2 separate regions of the Homo sapiens genome follow, and region 1 is linked to region 2. Evidence: fine-mapped expression QTL. A gene starts in region 2. The other region holds a variant in brackets. All regions are shown on one strand. Distances are between the middles of the regions. Region 1 overlaps PPARG (peroxisome proliferator activated receptor gamma). Region 2 holds the start of TSEN2 (tRNA splicing endonuclease subunit 2).

Region 1 (8,337 bases), 54 kb before region 2:
GCCAAAATTGATAATCCCTGCACTAGACCAAGCTCCGATTCAAATTTAAATATTAAGAGGACACATGTATAACTTTGCTGAATAATTTTTTCCTATCGGTAGGATGGTGGGAAGGAATTGCTATAGGCCACACCATGATACTTTGCTGAATTGGATCAGAAAAGTACCCTCAAATTCCCAGCATCATTTCTTCAAGGAAGTAGTGAATTGGGGCACCGTGGGTTTTTTGTTTTGTTATTGTTCTTAAACCACCTTGCCTATGTGCACTCAACTACAGGAACGAGAACTTGCCTGAAACCCCAAACGTGTCTGCATCAGGCATTATTTTTCTTGAGCTCCTGAATTTCTGCTCTAACCAAGAACAACTCAAAAACCTTCAATTTCATAACTGTTGATATGCCACCCACTCCTACTTACACTCCTGACCCCAACCCCATGGAAACTGCCTTTATTCGAACAAACACAAGAATTATAATATGTTCTAAAGTTCCTCTACCTATTTCATTCTCACCATACGCTTATGAAAGAAATGTCATTGTCTTGAAAACTAAGCCTAAACCCAGAAAGATTAGATGATTTGTCCACAGGCACACAGAAACTAAGTGGAAGAGAAACAGGACTCAAGTCTTCAGTTTCCCAATCCACTGCCTCCTAGAACATGCCTGTGAACTGAGGGAGCAGTGCAATAAAGGAAACTTGAGAGGAAGCGCAAAAGGAACTTAAATTGCAAAGTACTGGGTTCCCTAAGTAGCCCTGCCTCCCCTCCAGTTTTCAGCCCACACCTGAACTAAGGTCTTTCATTGTCTGTGGATCAATTTACAGCTGCCCTGCAATCACATTTGTTTTGTTTGTTTGTTTGTTTTGGTTTTGAACGCCCTAGGGACAGTCGGTTTCAGATTAGTCTCTATCAGAGAGCCAATAGGGAAAGATGCAGAAAGCCAGGAGAGCAGCTCCTAGAATAGAGACAAAACCACCTGCATTTTTTCTGCCTCTTCTTCAGGAGACTCCACTGTGGTCATCTGGTTCCCTAATTGAGACACCTCCTGAGAAAATCTGTGCTAGGGAAACACCCAGCCCAGGTGGGCAGATCTCAAGAGGACCAGAACGTTTGAATCTGCTTCAGATAAACCCTCCACTTAACAGTACCAGATCTGGACGAGATGGAAGCTTTGTAGATTTGCCCATAATCCACAGTGCTCTGTAATCAATTCCAGGACCGTGTGGATGGAGACCGGAAAGGTTTCTTTCCCAATTCTTCACAGCCTGGGGAGTAGGGAACTAGTAATTGACTCCAGCCTCCTCGAGTGCTAAGTCCTGGAGTCTGAGTCACACACACTTCCCAAAAGGGCCTTCTAAGCAGCCTACCCCAGCAGAGAGGACCCTTGGCCCTGGCCCTACTCCAGACTCAACTGTAACCTCAGCAAGGTGCAGGGAGAGGATCTCAGGTGGGCCTCCTGGCAACAGTGCCTTTTCAGGCACTAGGCTGTTGGGAATGGAGAGAGAAGAGAAAGGCCCTGGCACTGTCTGGGTATTTGGATGGATTTCTGTGGCACAACTGTGGCACCTGGCTTAGCTCAGTAAAGGACTGAGTGTGCGTGGAGCAGAAAGGGGAAAGAGACTAGTGGGGAGCTGGTGACCAGTTGGAGGGTGGAGGGTAGGGAACAACCCTGGCAGATCCATTTTGCCCTTGACTAGAGCTTAAAGACCAAAGGAAGCGTTCTTGTTTTTAAGTAAGTCAGGTGTTCTAAGTTTAATGTTAATATGCTTTTTCAATTAGATGTTTGAGTATATTTCCCCAGTTGAATTATGTAGAGGGAATTACAAATGAGAATACATCTTACAATTTTTGAATTAGAATCTTTGAGATTATCTATTTAGTCCGGTCTGTTTTGTTTAGACAAGAAAATTGAGCCCATTGATCTTAATCAGTTTGCCCAAGGTCACAGAGCTGGTGAGTGAAAGCTTTAGATGTAGAATATGCAACTTTTCTCTGCTGCCCTCCTTCCCTAAACCATCTTGCCTTAACGGAGGCTCAGTCAGGGGGACAATGGGACTGATCTGTAAATGATCTAACTTGTCATTGCAGAAAATATACTTACTCCGTGGCCACAAAATTTCAGCCCTTCAGCCAAGCTTCATCCATCACATCATAAAGAATAACTTGCCAAAGAGGGGTTTGAAAATCCAAACCAGATCCCTCTCCACTCCTAGAGAGGCCAGTTCCATGACACTGCACCGGAGCCAAGTGTTTCCAGCAAGCCCTGATCAGTTGCATGTTAGTCCTTGTTTGTATGATAAACGGGACCTAGTAGATTAACATCATCTCCTCAGCCCAAGGGCTGACCCCAGTGGTGCTGCTCAAGAGGAAGGAGGAGGCTGGGAGCGGTGGCTCCCGCTTGTCATCCCAGCACTTTGAGGGGCTGAGGAGGGCAAATCTCTTGAGCCCAGCATTCAAGAGCAGCCTGGAAAATGTAGAGATTCTGTCTCTACCAAAAAAAAAAAAAAAAAAAAAGAAGCAGGTGGAGGAAGGAGGAGCTGCAGAAAGGCTCCGGGAGCCAGTGTCTAGTAAGCAGAGGCCTAGCCCAGGCTGAGTGGTCCCAGCCCAGGAGGGCCTCTCTCGGCACCTGTCTTTAGATGCACGTCTGCCTCTGGCCTTTGAGATGCACACATTCATCAAGCAGGAGGATCTGTAGTCATTAAACCAAGGTGCCAGTCTGGGGCCCAGCCTTCAATGAAGCATCAGTGGCTTTTTCATTCCCATAGAGCAACTGCGAGGAAGACCCCATGCTCCCAGGGGCCCAATTCTCCAGGCCAGGACCAGATCATTTGTTCCTTCTCAGAATCTGAGATCTTTTGCTGATGGTTCCAAAATTGAATGCTGAAATCTAAAAAGAAAATTATACTTACTCTGGTCAATGGGATATGTTGGAGACCTGAGAGTGAAAAAATCAAACTGAAGACCAGTTTCCTTCTTTAATGGAAGAAAAGTAAGAAAGTTAACTTAGAAGAATATTTAGAGTTCTGAAAATCCCACTCTGAGACCACTCTGCCATCTCACATTGTTCTCTTGAGCCTTATCTCAATGGATAAAGGTCACTAGAGTTTATTAGACACAGGAAAACATCGTTTACAGACTTCTTCATTGTGTAGGGATTCTGCCTTCAGGCCTGTTCACCAGCCAGGAGAATTGTGCTTTTTGATCCAGGGCTCTTGGCCAGAACAGCCTTCTCGCTCATTAACTCAGTCAACCAAATGCTTCCTGTGTTTCCACTGGTGGTTCAGAACGTAGTCTCTGCCCTCTGATACCTCACGGTCTAACGGGGGAGAAACAAGAAAGTCAGAACTTACAATACAAGATAATAAGGAATAAGAGCAGAGCCTTTGGAACCAGACAGACTTAGATCCAAATGTCAGCTCTGCATTTACTAGCAAGTGGTCTATCTTGGTAAGATGCAACTCTTTTCTCTAAGTCTTAATTTCTCCCTCTGTAAAGTATGACCTCATGGGGTTATTGTGAAGATTAAATGGCATATCGTATATAAGGCCCTTGGCACGATCTTTGGAAAATAATAACCATTCAGTGAATGTAATCTACTAGTATAGTAGCGATTGAGGTGTTTATAGGGTGCTATGAGGGCCCAGAGAAAGGAGATGAGATGAACAGGAGAGAGGAAGGGATACTGTTGAGGAAGGATTTCAGGATGGAATCCCACCACAGGCTGTATTTTGAAGAAATGGTTGAAGTCAATAAGAAGAGTGAAGGGAAGGTGAGAATGTTTCAGGCAGGAAGAATAAAATCTGAATAAGTGCAGAGTCCTGACAGAACATAGGGTGTTTGAGGAACTTGGTATGGAAATAGATTAATATGGCTTAACATGGAGCAAAATGAAACAGAACTGAGACTAGAGGATGACCAGGACCAGGTCATGAAGGACATTAAAGGTGGGTAAAACTCATACCATGAAGGAGAGAAGAGTTACAGTTTTTAAAAGAAAATAAATAGCCTTCAGGAGCTCAAATTTGAAATCAATACGAGATAGATGATCAAGTGAATGTTCTGTCTTCTTGATGAGCCTGACTGAGAAAACCTTATAATCTAACCCAAGGCAACAAACTGAGAAATTAGAAAATAAAACTTAGAGATTAGAAAACAAAAACTGAAACCCAAACTTTTTACTTGGAAATTTAAAAACATGCTTCTATATAACTCTTAGGTTAAAAATGAAATCAAAATTGTAAGACAAGCTGTTTAGAAAAGAACTATGAGAGTACCGTTTATCAAAGCCCATGGGATGAAACCAAAGTGGCACTAAGAAGAAAATGTGGAGGCTTCAATGCATTTATTAGAATACAAAGAATACCAAATCAAATGAATTAAGCATTCAACTCAAGAAAACTAGAAAAAGAGAAGAAAGTAAACCTAAAGAAAGTTTTAAAAAGGAATTCAATAAATTAAAAACAAAACACACAATTTTTAAAAACAG[A/G]CTTGATTAATAAAACCAAAAGCTATGTCTTTTTTAAAAAAGCAAAAAATAGATAAACCTTTGACAAATCAGATTTTTTTAATGAGAGAATGCACAAATAAAGAGCTCTAAGAGCTGGGCATGGTGACTCATGCCTATATTCCCAGCACTTTGGGAGGCTGAGGCAGGAGGATTGGTTGAGGCCAGGAGTTTAAGACCAGCCTGGGCTACGTAGCAAGACCCCACCTCTACAAAAAATTTCGAAATTAGTTGGGTGTGGCGGCTCATGCCTATAGTCCCAGCTACTTGGGAGGCTAAAGCAGGAGGATCACCTGAACCCAGGAGTTGGAGGCTGCAGTGAGCCATGATCATGCCACTGCACTGGGCAACAGATTAAGACTCTGTCACAAAAAAAAAAGCGTTAAGTTAAGGAGCGTGAATAAAAATAATACATTTCATATTCTAAGACAATATCATCTACAACTTTATTCCAATATAAATTACTAAAACTTTACCATATAAGTAGTAGAAAGCCTGAATAGATAAAAGCTATGGAAGAAAAATTAAAGATAGTGATAGATTTATCACCAAGCTCAGATGGTTCTGCAAACAAATTCTAAGAAACCGTCAGGGAACAGATCATTACTGCGTTGACACAGAAGGCAAACCTCTCAACTTGGTGTATAAGGCTAGTTAACATTGTTACTAAAACAGGCAAAGAATGGCCCCCAAAATAACTCTAAACCAGTATCACCTACAAATACAAAAACTCTATATAAAATATTAGCAAGTGAGTACAAGAGTATAAGGAACTCTATTAATGTAATTCACTGTGCTAGGTTAAGATAAAACCATAACTCTTCAGATATCATAGCTCTTTAGATAGAAAAATGTAAAAGTATTTGATAAAAATTCAACAACATTCCTGACTAAAACAAATTAAAATTGTAAAACCCCTGGAAAGCCAGGAGTAAAACATGTTCTCCATAATCTATAGCAAACATCATAGTTGCTGATAAACCATTAGAAGCATTTCCTTCAAAGTTAGGAATAAAACAAGAATTGCTACTATTGCTACTATTATTTAATCCCATATTGGAGGTTTTAGCCAACACACTATGGCAAGAAGAGGAAATGAGAAAGGTTAATGCTGCAAAAGAAGAAATAAATAAAGCTACCATTGCTGATATAATTATCTATCCAAAAAAAGTAGAAATCCATGATTAAAAGCTATTTGAACTGATAAAAGTTCAGAAAATTGGAATTGTTTCAATATACTAAAATCAATTAGTTTTCTGCACATCAGTGGGGATATATTAGATGTAATGAAAATGAAGGGTCCATTCACAATAGAAGCTATAAAGTATTTGAGAATAAATCTAACAAGATCTACATAAAGAAAAAAGTAAACTGCTTAAAAGTAATTTAAGTTCACCATTTGCAAATTGAACTAAAGAAAAATCTAAAGAAGAACTAGTGAAAATTGCTTGCAATCTTACCACTGAAAAGAAACCTCTGTTAAAATGTATCAGTATTTTAAAACTGTGTTTTGTCCTTTGGAAATATGCCATATTAAGCAAACATAGCATAAGCAAATTAAGCAAAAAGACAAACCTTTTTTTAAAAGCATATTTGTGAAAAAAGCATATTTGAAGCTATGATAAGAAACTGAGTAGAAGCTATAAAACGTAGATTCATCAGGAAGGAGCAGAAGTTGAAAAGGAGATTTCTGGCTGGGCACAGTGGCTCATGCCTGTAATCCCAGCACTTTGGGAGGCCAAGGCGGGTGGATCACTTGAGGTCAGGAGTTTGAGACAAGCCTGGCCAACATGGTGAAACCCTATCTCTACTAAAAATACAAAAATTAGAAAGGCGTGGTGGTGAGCACCTATCATCCCAGCTACTCAGGAGGCTGAGGCAGGAGAATAGCTTGATCCCGGGAGGCATAGGTTGTAGTGAGCCGACGTCATGCCACTGCACTCCAGCCTGGATGACAGAGCAAGACTCCATCTCAAAAAAAAAAAAAAAGAAAAGAAAAGAAAAGGAGATTTCTGAGTAGAAACACGTTAGCAGAGGAAACTTCATTTGGGGAACAGGATTGTTTTGATGCCATGCTCCCTCAGCTGACCACACAGATTACATCCTGGCCAGAAAAAGGCCCTGCAAAGAGCTCTGATCATTTTGGTTCTGATTCCATCCTTAGTTCTTACCCATTATCTGCTTACCCTTCCTCCCCACCTATTTAAGATACAAAGCAAAACAAACCAAAAATACAGATGAGTTGCTTGGTAGAGCTGCCTAGGCCTCCAAGGCGGGGCCCAGAGGATTTTTTGACTGAACCCCCTGTTGTGTTTTCCATATGTGCTTCCCCAGACCGCCCAGGTTTGCTGAATGTGAAGCCCATTGAAGACATTCAAGACAACCTGCTACAAGCCCTGGAGCTCCAGCTGAAGCTGAACCACCCTGAGTCCTCACAGCTGTTTGCCAAGCTGCTCCAGAAAATGACAGACCTCAGACAGATTGTCACGGAACACGTGCAGCTACTGCAGGTGATCAAGAAGACGGAGACAGACATGAGTCTTCACCCGCTCCTGCAGGAGATCTACAAGGACTTGTACTAGCAGAGAGTCCTGAGCCACTGCCAACATTTCCCTTCTTCCAGTTGCACTATTCTGAGGGAAAATCTGACACCTAAGAAATTTACTGTGAAAAAGCATTTTAAAAAGAAAAGGTTTTAGAATATGATCTATTTTATGCATATTGTTTATAAAGACACATTTACAATTTACTTTTAATATTAAAAATTACCATATTATGAAATTGCTGATAGTATTTGAAGACTGAGTCTTGTGTGTTTCCCACCCTAGCCCCCAGGCTTTCTTTTTTACCCCTTTTCCTTCTCCCCTCCCTCCCTCCATCCCTCTCACTCTTCCTCCCTCCCTTCCCTCCTTTCCTTCTTCCTTTATTTTTCTTTTCTTTCTTAGACATTTTAAAATATGTGAGTGGAACTGCTGATACACTTTCATTCTCAGTAAATTAATTTTTTACTCAATTTACAACTTTTCGGAACTCTGCATCTGCTTTAACAATCAGAACTAAGAAGGGAAGGGGAACTTCAGAATCAGAAACTGCTCAGAGCATGTGTTTTGTAGCCTGGATGTGCTGATATGCAGCATATCCCTGGGATTACCCAGAATTCAGTCTTCTTCCACAATCCTAACCGAGATTTTCACGCACCACCAGCAGCCTACTCGTATACTACCTACTAATCAATGCCACTGCGCACCCACAGAGCCAGTGGCCAGCAACTGAGCACTGCTAGAAACTCTGGGGAACACAGAACTTTTTTAAGATTTGGTATCTGCGCCAGGCATGGTGTCTCAAGCCTTTAATCCACGCACGTTAGGAGGCCAAGGTGGATGGATCGATTGAGCTGGTCTCTTGTTCGAGACCCTGTCTCCACAACAGTTTTAAATATTAGCCATGTGTGGTGGCACACACCTGTAGTCCCAGCTACTCGCAGGCTGAGGCGGGAGGATTGCTTGAGCCTGGGAGTTGAGGCTGCAGTGAGCTGTGATGATGCCACTGTATTCCAGCCTGGGCCACAGAGTGAGACCCTGTCTCTAAAAAAAGATAAAAAAGATTTGACACCTGCCAAAAAGAATTTACCGATTATAAACTGAGGAGAAAAGATTAATCTTTTTTCATACAGATTCAAATACGCAGATGAAATCACATGCCAGGTGAATGGTAAGAGTTTGTAGGAAGTAAGATGAGTGAAGATTGGAATCCCAGAGACTGAATCTGTGGATTTGCTGAAGAGGGCCTCAGGGAAGTGTTAGACTGGAATAGGTAGAGAGGAGGAGAAAAGACA
Region 2 (8,337 bases):
GGTCTTGAACTCCCACCCTCAGGTGATCAACCCACCTCGGCCTCCCAGAGTTCTGGGATTACAGGCATAAGTCACCGCGCCCGGCCTGTCATGTTTTGTTAATGCATTGCCCTCCTGTATCCAGCATGACAGATTAAAAGAGCATAAGCCCCGTAGATCCGTATCCTCATCTGGCCTTCACTACTTCCTAGCAATGACACCATGGGCATGTGCGGTAACCTTGGCTGCAGAAGAGAGGTAAGAACACCAATCTCACAGCCCTGTTATGAGAATTAAATAAGATCATGGATGCAAAAGTGGCTGGCACATAGTAAGTGCCCAATAAATTGTCACTAGGGTGGCCAGATAAAATGTGAGGCACCCAGATTAACTTGAATTTCAGATAAACTTTTTTCTTAAGTATATCCCAAATATTACTTGGAGGTTCTGGGCACATTTCACCGATAACTGTTCATTGTGTTAGATGTGCTAGTGATACTGGGGATATGTTGATATAGTCCATCCTCCCTACTCTTGGATTCTGTATTTACAAACTCACCTAGTTGCTAAAACTTATTGGTAACATCACAATCAATACTTCACTGTCACAGTCATCTGCAGATGTGTGCATGCACAGAATACCAAAAAATTTGAGTCACACAGTGTGCACATTCCCAGCTGCAGGTGAACAAGGAGACTCTGCCTTCTTGTTTCAGCTCTCATACCATAAATAAGTATGCTTTTTTGAGCTCTAGTTTGTGCCATGTTTTTCACATTTTTGTGCTTTTTGTTGGTGATTTAACTGTTTAAAATGGCCCCAAGTGGAGTGCTGAAGTGCTGTCTGGTGTTCCCCACCCAAGAAATGTGCCTTATTGGAGAGAATAGGTGTGTTAGATAAGCCTCCTTTAGGCAGGAGTTATAGTGCTGTTGGCTGCGAGTTCAGTGTTGATGAATCAACATATGTAAGGTGTCTTTAAACAGAAACACATGAAGTGAGGTTATATATTGACCAGTTGATGAAAATGCTGTGACCAGAGACTCACAGACACCTAACCTTGTATCTTGTATTTCTCCTGGAAACATGGTTCAGTATTTACTAATTCAGTGTTTGTGGCAACTTTATAGAACAGAATTACCTCAAATAATGAGAATGAACTACACAGTTGATATATGTGTGTGTGTGTGTGTGTGTCTGCGTATATATATATATATATATGTAGATGCAGATGTATTGTAATAAAATTAAGTCCTTATCTATTAGAGATACCTACTGAAATATCATGGATGAAGTTATATCATGTCTGGGATTGTTTTAAAATACTCCAGCAAGGAGATAAAAGTGTGTATATCGAGAATGCAAAAGAAATGAGATACCAAAGGTTGAAGGTTGTAGAAGCGATTTTTTATTTTTGAGACAGAGTTTTTACTCTTGTTGCCTAGGCTGGAGGGCAATGGTGCAATCCCGACTCACCACAACCTCCACCTCCCCGGTTCAAGCAATTCTCTTGCCTCAGCCTCCAGGGTAGCTGGGATTATAGGCATGCACCACCATGTCCAGCTAATTTTGTATTTTTAGTAGAGATGGGGTTTCTCCATGTTGGTCAGGCTGGTCTCGAACTCCCAACCTCAGGTGATCCACCCGCCTCAGCCTCCCAAAGTGCTGGGATTACAGGCATGAGCCACCGTGCCCGGCCAGAAGTGATGATTTATTGGACTGTTTTCTCTACTTTTGTGTTGTATGTTTGAAAATAACCATATCAAAGGGTTTAAAATGCACTTGAGAAAGTCTTGGGGAAAATTTCTTTCTTTTTTAAAATTTACAGATTTTTTTTCTTTTTTTAATTTCTTTTTTTATGTTTTTGGGAGGGGAATTTGAGATCCCATTATCAGCAAACCCCAAATCCTTCCACGAGCTGGGATGGGATTTAAGAGACCTGGCTCTAGTCTCAGCCCCACCTCAGACCTGCTCGGTTATCTCTGACAACTCACAGTGCCACTGGAACTGTTTTCTTATCAGTTAAATAAGGAAGTTTAACTGGACAACCTCTGAATCCCTTTCATTGTTAAAGCCCTCTAATTCTAAAACCAGTATTTCTTAAATTGGCATGTTCTGGTCGGATATTACAGCCTCTCTTCAGCTGTCTCTCCCCTGCCCAATCCATCCTGTTACCATATCCTGTGACTCTTGCCAATTTTCTCCCTTTCTTTTGCAACATTCTTACCACAAAGCTCTTTGATTTTGGTTTATCTAAAACCTGAACTCCCTAGCCTAGCAGTGAAGGTCCTTGCAGCAGAGGACCCACTGAATGCTGCGACATGATCTCACTCTACCAAGAGCAAGCCCACAGTGCAGTTCAAAAAGGGCCAGGCAGGATGCAGTGGCTCAAGCCTGTAATCCCAGCACTTTGGGAGGCCGAGGCGGGAGGATCGCTTGAGGTCAGGAGTTTGAGACCAGCCTGGCCAACGTGGTGAAACCCCGTTTCTACTAAAAATATAACAATCAGCCGGGCGTGGTGGCAGGCGCCTGTAATCCGAGCTACTCGGGAGGCTGAGGCAGGAGAATCACCTGAACCTGGGAGGCAGAGATTGCAGTGAGGTAAGTGAGCTGAGATGGTGCCACTGCATTCCAGCCTGGGCGACAGAGCCAGGCTCCGTCTCAAAAAATAAAAAGGGCCAGAAAAACAGGGACAACACATGCCATGCCAGACTACTGCAGAGCACAGAGGCAAGTCACCCAAGCAGGTCTGGGAAGGCAAGAAGTCTCCTGGAAGAGGTGATATTTGAGCTGAGACCTAAAGGCTGACCAGGAATTACTGCAGCTAACAGAGGGGAGGGAACATAGAGGCAACAGCATGCGTGAAGGAATGGAGGCAAGAACATTGGCAGAAGTCCAAAATTCAACATCCATCATCACATCTAGCACCATGAATCTCTCCAGCAGTATTTGCCACACTTCCTTGCCATCCTCCTTTGCCTCCTGCTTAGTCTGTGTGGTGGAACTCCTGTGATTCATATTTGGGAAAGTATATATTGGACTCCCCACAGGGCTCCTTTAAAATAACCAGGTCAGGAGAAACTTACACTTCCTATTGCACTCCAGTTTTGCTCATCTCCCGTAATTCTGATGGCCCATTTTTCAGTAAACTCAAGCTCAGAAAGGTTGTCAGTCATTCAAGCTCACGCAGCCAGTGAGGGGGGAAAATGGGGATGCAGAGCAGGTGGACCTGCCGCCTATTGTCCCTTAACTGCACAGGCAGTCTGGGCACACAGAGGCTTCTGGCCAGGTGTCTGCCAGAGAAAACGTCCTTGCAAGTTCCCCGCATGCTGCAGCGTACACAGGTGCGCTGCTGTGATCCTCTTTCTACATTGAGAAAGATGAGATCAGTTTCCTCAGGGCCATTTAATAAAGTCCTGTCGGTCGCCTCAAACATCCCATCCACCGAGGGCCGAAGATTCTAGGTCTCTCCCACCTCCCACGTGACTATGTGACATTTGACGGGTAACTGCATCTCATCTGTAAAATGCGTCTTGCAGGATCGTTCTGGCTTCCGTACAATCCTGCAGAGAGCAGCAAAGCGCGCACGCAGCCTCCGCCTCATACTCCGCAGTGGCAGAGCTGGCGCACAGAACACCCGCCAGCCGGCCGTGCGCAGGCGCACTCCGCCAAGTCCCGACGGGAGCTCTGCGGCTGCGCACTCGGCTGGCTTTGCGGCCGCACTGCTTGACGGCAGCGGTGTCCGCCCCACGGCCGGCGTTGCCGGGGTAACGGCGAGCGCGTGGGGCCAAGAAAGGTAAGGGCCCTGGGCGAGGAAAGCGCGGCCCTTTCCGAGTTTGGTGTTTTGCAGCGAAAGGAAATCTCGCTCTTCCGAAAGTCCTCCAGGGCGAGAGAGGAAAGGGCCTAGGTACTGTGCTGGGGTCGCACAGCCGGCCGAGACAGTGCCGGGACGGGGAGCCAGGCTTCCGAGTGCGCCCGGTCACTGACTCCTCCGCGCTTTCCTCGTGCGCCTGCAGCCCTTGGTTCTTGGAAACGCCGGCGCCTTGTTCAGGGCTGGTGGGGCTGGGGCGCAAGGTGCAGCTGACAATGCCCGAGAGGAGCCGCAGCCTCTGGTGGAGTTCGGTCGGGTGTGGGGGTAGTCAAGGAAAGAAGCAAAGGGGTAAGACAGGGAGTTAGGAATTGGCGGGGCCCCTAACGCTGTTGGGGTGCGCAGTTTATTTTATTTGCAGCTGTCGTCTGGTGAGCGCTTTCCACGTGGTAGGCCCCGAACGAAACGCCTTCTGCAAAATTATGCATTTAATCCTGACAACAACTTTCAAAGGCTGGTCATCTGTTTATATGGCTTATTCTCAGGTTCTAACTTGAAAGCTCCCCAGAGGCAGGATTGTTTACCTTGTGCCTTTCATCCTTGCCTCCCTAAGCCCAGGAGGTGCGCAGATGGAGCTTGAAGCGTGTTTTGGTTGGGAGAAGGTGAGATTTGCTGGGTAGGAGGTTTTTTAACCAGGTTTGTTTGGCACCTAGTCCAGGAAGGTTGGAAAATTAAATGGAGCCACCTCTCCCTTTTTTGTTTTTCTAATAGACATTTACCATCACCTAAGAGGTGTTAGCCTGTGTGCTCGAGGGAAGAATAAGAAACAGACTCTGCTTTTAATAGAAAGTAAGAATATGCAGCTCTGGAGTCAGGTTGCGCAGGTTGGGGAAATAAGAAGTAAAGATTTCTCAGGGGTGCGCCCGGCCCCTCCGAGTCACTTTCCACATCTGTACAATGGAAATAAAAATAGTCTTTACCTCCGGGGGCTACTGGGATTAAGTGAATTTGAATAGACCTTGCTGTTACCAGTGGTTAGCTATATGTTAAAATCAGCTGGGTCCACCCAGGAAATTCTGATGTAATTGATTGCAGGTGAGGCCTGGGCATGAGGAGTTAAGGGTAGGTAAGCTTGAGGGCCACTGTGTGATGTACCACTCCCAGGTTTAATTTTCTTAATCTGCATTTTTCAATCATCATTCTAAATAACCTGCAGTGACTCCAATTCCAAACCAACCTTTGCATCCCAAACCTCTTGACAACTGACCCAGTCTTTCCTATATGTTTTTGTGCACCTCAGGCACCGCTCTTCTTTCATATCTGTGGAATGAGGATAGTACAGTCAGCTCTCGCTATCAGGTTCCGAATCTGTGGATTCAACCAATGTTGCATCAAAAATATTTGGAAAAAGAAATTTAAAAATATATATATATAACAATTATTTAGTATTTACATTGTATTAGGTATTCTAAGTAATCTAGAGAAGACTTAAAGTAGATGGGAGGATGGGCATAAGTTACATGCAAATACTACATTTTATTTAAGGGACTTGAGCTGCGGATTTTGGTAGGGGGTGAGTCCTGGAACCAGTCCTTCTGTGGATACCAAGGGATGACTATAGTACCCACATGTGCAGCACATGCAGTGAGTGCCTCTGGCATCTGGTACCTACCTATGACAGTTTCCTCTTCTTATTTTACTCACATCCCACCTCTTACAGCATGCTGTTCTGCCGCGACACTAAAGAACCTTCTTGAATATCCATTGCAGATATGGGGAATGGTAAATGCAGTCTTTTCTCCTCTGCTTTGCCTTTCGAGTTCAGCACAGGAGGACTCTTCCATGAAACTAGAGATCATCTGATTTGTCCTCTTGAATTTTTCCCCCTGGGGAAGTGAGCTCTACCTTCCCTGAGGGTTTCTTTCTATCTTTTCTAGAAGCTTCACGCTGGTATCTGTGAAGTCATTCTTGCAGGACATGGCCTGGGGAATGTCTTTACTTCTGAATTTTTTAAAATAGCTTTATTGAGATACCATATAATTCTGTAAAAGTCACCCTTCTGAAATGTACGAGTCAGTGGTCTTCGTATTCGCGGAGTTATGTAACCATTACCATCACTACAATCTAATTTTAAAACATTTTCGTCACCCTCCAAAATAAACCTCCTGTCTTATTAGCAGTCGCCCCCCCATTTCCCACTTTTCCCTGTCTCTGGCAACTGGTAATCTGTCTCTATGGATTTGTCTATTCCGGAAACTTTATCTTAATTGTCTCGTGGTCTTTTGTGTCTGACTTCTTTTAGCATAATGCTTTCAGGTGTTGAAGAATGTATCCGAACTTCATTCCTTTTCTATGGCTAAGTATTTGATTATATGGATAGACCACATTTTGTTGATCTGGTCAACTATTGATGGACATTTGGATGGCTTCCACTTTGATGCTATTATGAATAATACTGTTGTGAACATTCACATACAAATTTTTCCATGAACATATGTTTTCATTTCTCTTAGGTCTATACCTAGGGGTGGAGTTGCTGGATCATGTCGTAACTATGTGTTTGACATTTTGAGGAACTGCCAGACTCCTCCAGTCCTGTTCGATTTGAAGATGAAACTGGGCTTAGAGAAAGTGGGTTGTGCAAGGTCACACAATAATAATGGCGGCTTTGCATGTCTGGAAGGCCTACTGCGAGCCAAATTCCTGAGGGGTGTGCAGCCACATGAGCAAGAGTAACACAAGAACTTGGATTATGAGGGGTGTTTTGTCGCAGGGACCCTTCCATCCCACACACCTGGGTTGGAGTACAGAGTTCTTTCGATCAAGTGTCACAGCTAAATCTTGCCTTTTTTAGATGTGACAGCAGTCTGAGAGGGAAAAACGCTGAACAAATGAGGCAGACTAAAATACAACTCTTATTTGTTGAGAGAATTTATTAGAACTTCTTGAAGGTGGCCATTAAATCTTTTTTCATTTTTTTAAAATTCCGAATGTAATGTATATAAGTCAGCTGCTGAGCAGAGGTTATAAAAGTGAAAAATCCCATAAAAGTCCAAACCATTCCTGGAAGTCTTTCAAAAAGTGCCTTACTAGAGACCAACATCCTGCCCCCAAAAAGCAGTGTTTATTTTCAGTTTTAGAATAAATTATTGTCTCTCCAATTGAGTACTAAATGTGATAATTTAGTACTTGGGCTGAGGGATAAGTCAGCAAGCAAGGTAAAGCCTAGTCTAAATATGCTCTTAAGAAAATCTCTTAGGTTTCCTGTGAGCATGCAGTAGACGTGGTTTTGTTATAAACACTATACAGCAAGATGCATGCATAAATATAAAATGTACAAAGTAATGCTCAGTATGTAATTCCTTCAAGGAACCTTATTTAGAAATTAATCTAGCATGTTGCTGCTTAGAACAATGGCAATTCTAGGAAGGTTCCAACTTCCCGATTCTTCTTTTTCATGGTTATCTTTGTAATTGATGTATCATTTCCTCTAACTCCTCTTTAGTCTGTGTTTTTCTGTGTCCTCATATAATTCCTCAGCTTCTTCCTTGAGAAGTTGGATACTGATATCATCACACGTTGGATAAGCCTTTTCTTAATGGTCATGACACTCTTAAAGCCACTCACCTTCCCCTCCCTCAGTTTTGGCCACCTTCTTGACTGTTTCAGGCTTGATGGCATCCCTTGCCAATGGGATGCAAGTACTGAGTGCAGGAGCCACCTAAGTAATTAGTCTTATTTTTTCCCTTGTGAGGATTCGGAGTCATGTAGGTTAAACGTGTGTATGATTTGGCCGCACTGTATCTTCAAGCACCAGGTAAGCTCTCAGTTGAAATCAAGTCTAGACCTAGTACTGGGGGAGCAGCAGATTCAAGTTTCCCATCTCATTCCAGGACAGCTGCTCCTCGAGTGGAATGTCTTGCACCATTTACATTGTTTTCCCATGTATATGGTTACGTTTTCCTAGGTTAAGTGCATCTACTGTATCTCTGTGTCTGCATCACACAATATGTTCACATTTACTTCCCTCCTTTAGACATTAGTGGATAACAGCCAGTTCCGTTAGCTCCAACCTGCTTTCTGTGCTTCCAGCTATGTTATATACTTGTTTTGTCTCCTTGGATCCAATGTATGGCCCCAGAGGGACACGTACTGGCTTTGGCTTTCTGTTCTCCCTCATGGTGCTGGGTGCACAGTGGGTAATTCCGTTACTGCTCAATAACCCTTCACCGTCTGATTTTGAGAAAGAGTCATCAGACAAAAGTAGATAGACCCTGCCTGTGCTTTCAGCAGAATCTAGAGAGAGGGCATGGGCTTGGGAGTTCAACAGACCTGGGTCACCCGATGCCACCACACTCGGGGTCGTCTACAAATCTCTCTAACCTGAATCTGTTTCCTATTTGTAAAATGGTGTTGCTACTGCTCACCCTGTAATACTAATTATAGCTGATACATGAATGGTACACGCTATGTGCCAGGTACTGTTCTAAGCACTTTATGGATCTTAACTGTAAGATAGAGTCGTTCTTATCTTGATTTTGCAGGTGAGGAAACT

The links. PIP is the estimated chance that this variant, and not a neighbour inherited with it, causes the effect.
Region 1: its variant is fine-mapped to the expression of TSEN2 in visceral fat (GTEx, PIP 0.99).

What each region holds. Positions count from the first base shown.
Region 1 is chr3:12,427,062-12,435,398 of GRCh38, forward strand. It overlaps PPARG (peroxisome proliferator activated receptor gamma), which reads left to right. Exons shown (of 8, transcript NM_138711.6): 8 at 6,837-7,283. The coding sequence ends at 7,084. Among named protein-coding and RNA genes, the nearest start is that of TSEN2, 53 kb to the right of the region's middle. The variant A/G (reference allele first, on the strand shown) is at 4,485.
Region 2 is chr3:12,480,748-12,489,084 of GRCh38, forward strand. It overlaps TSEN2 (tRNA splicing endonuclease subunit 2), which reads left to right and starts at 3,733. Exons shown (of 12, transcript NM_025265.4): 1 at 3,733-4,133. RefSeq lists an enhancer at 3,657-4,076.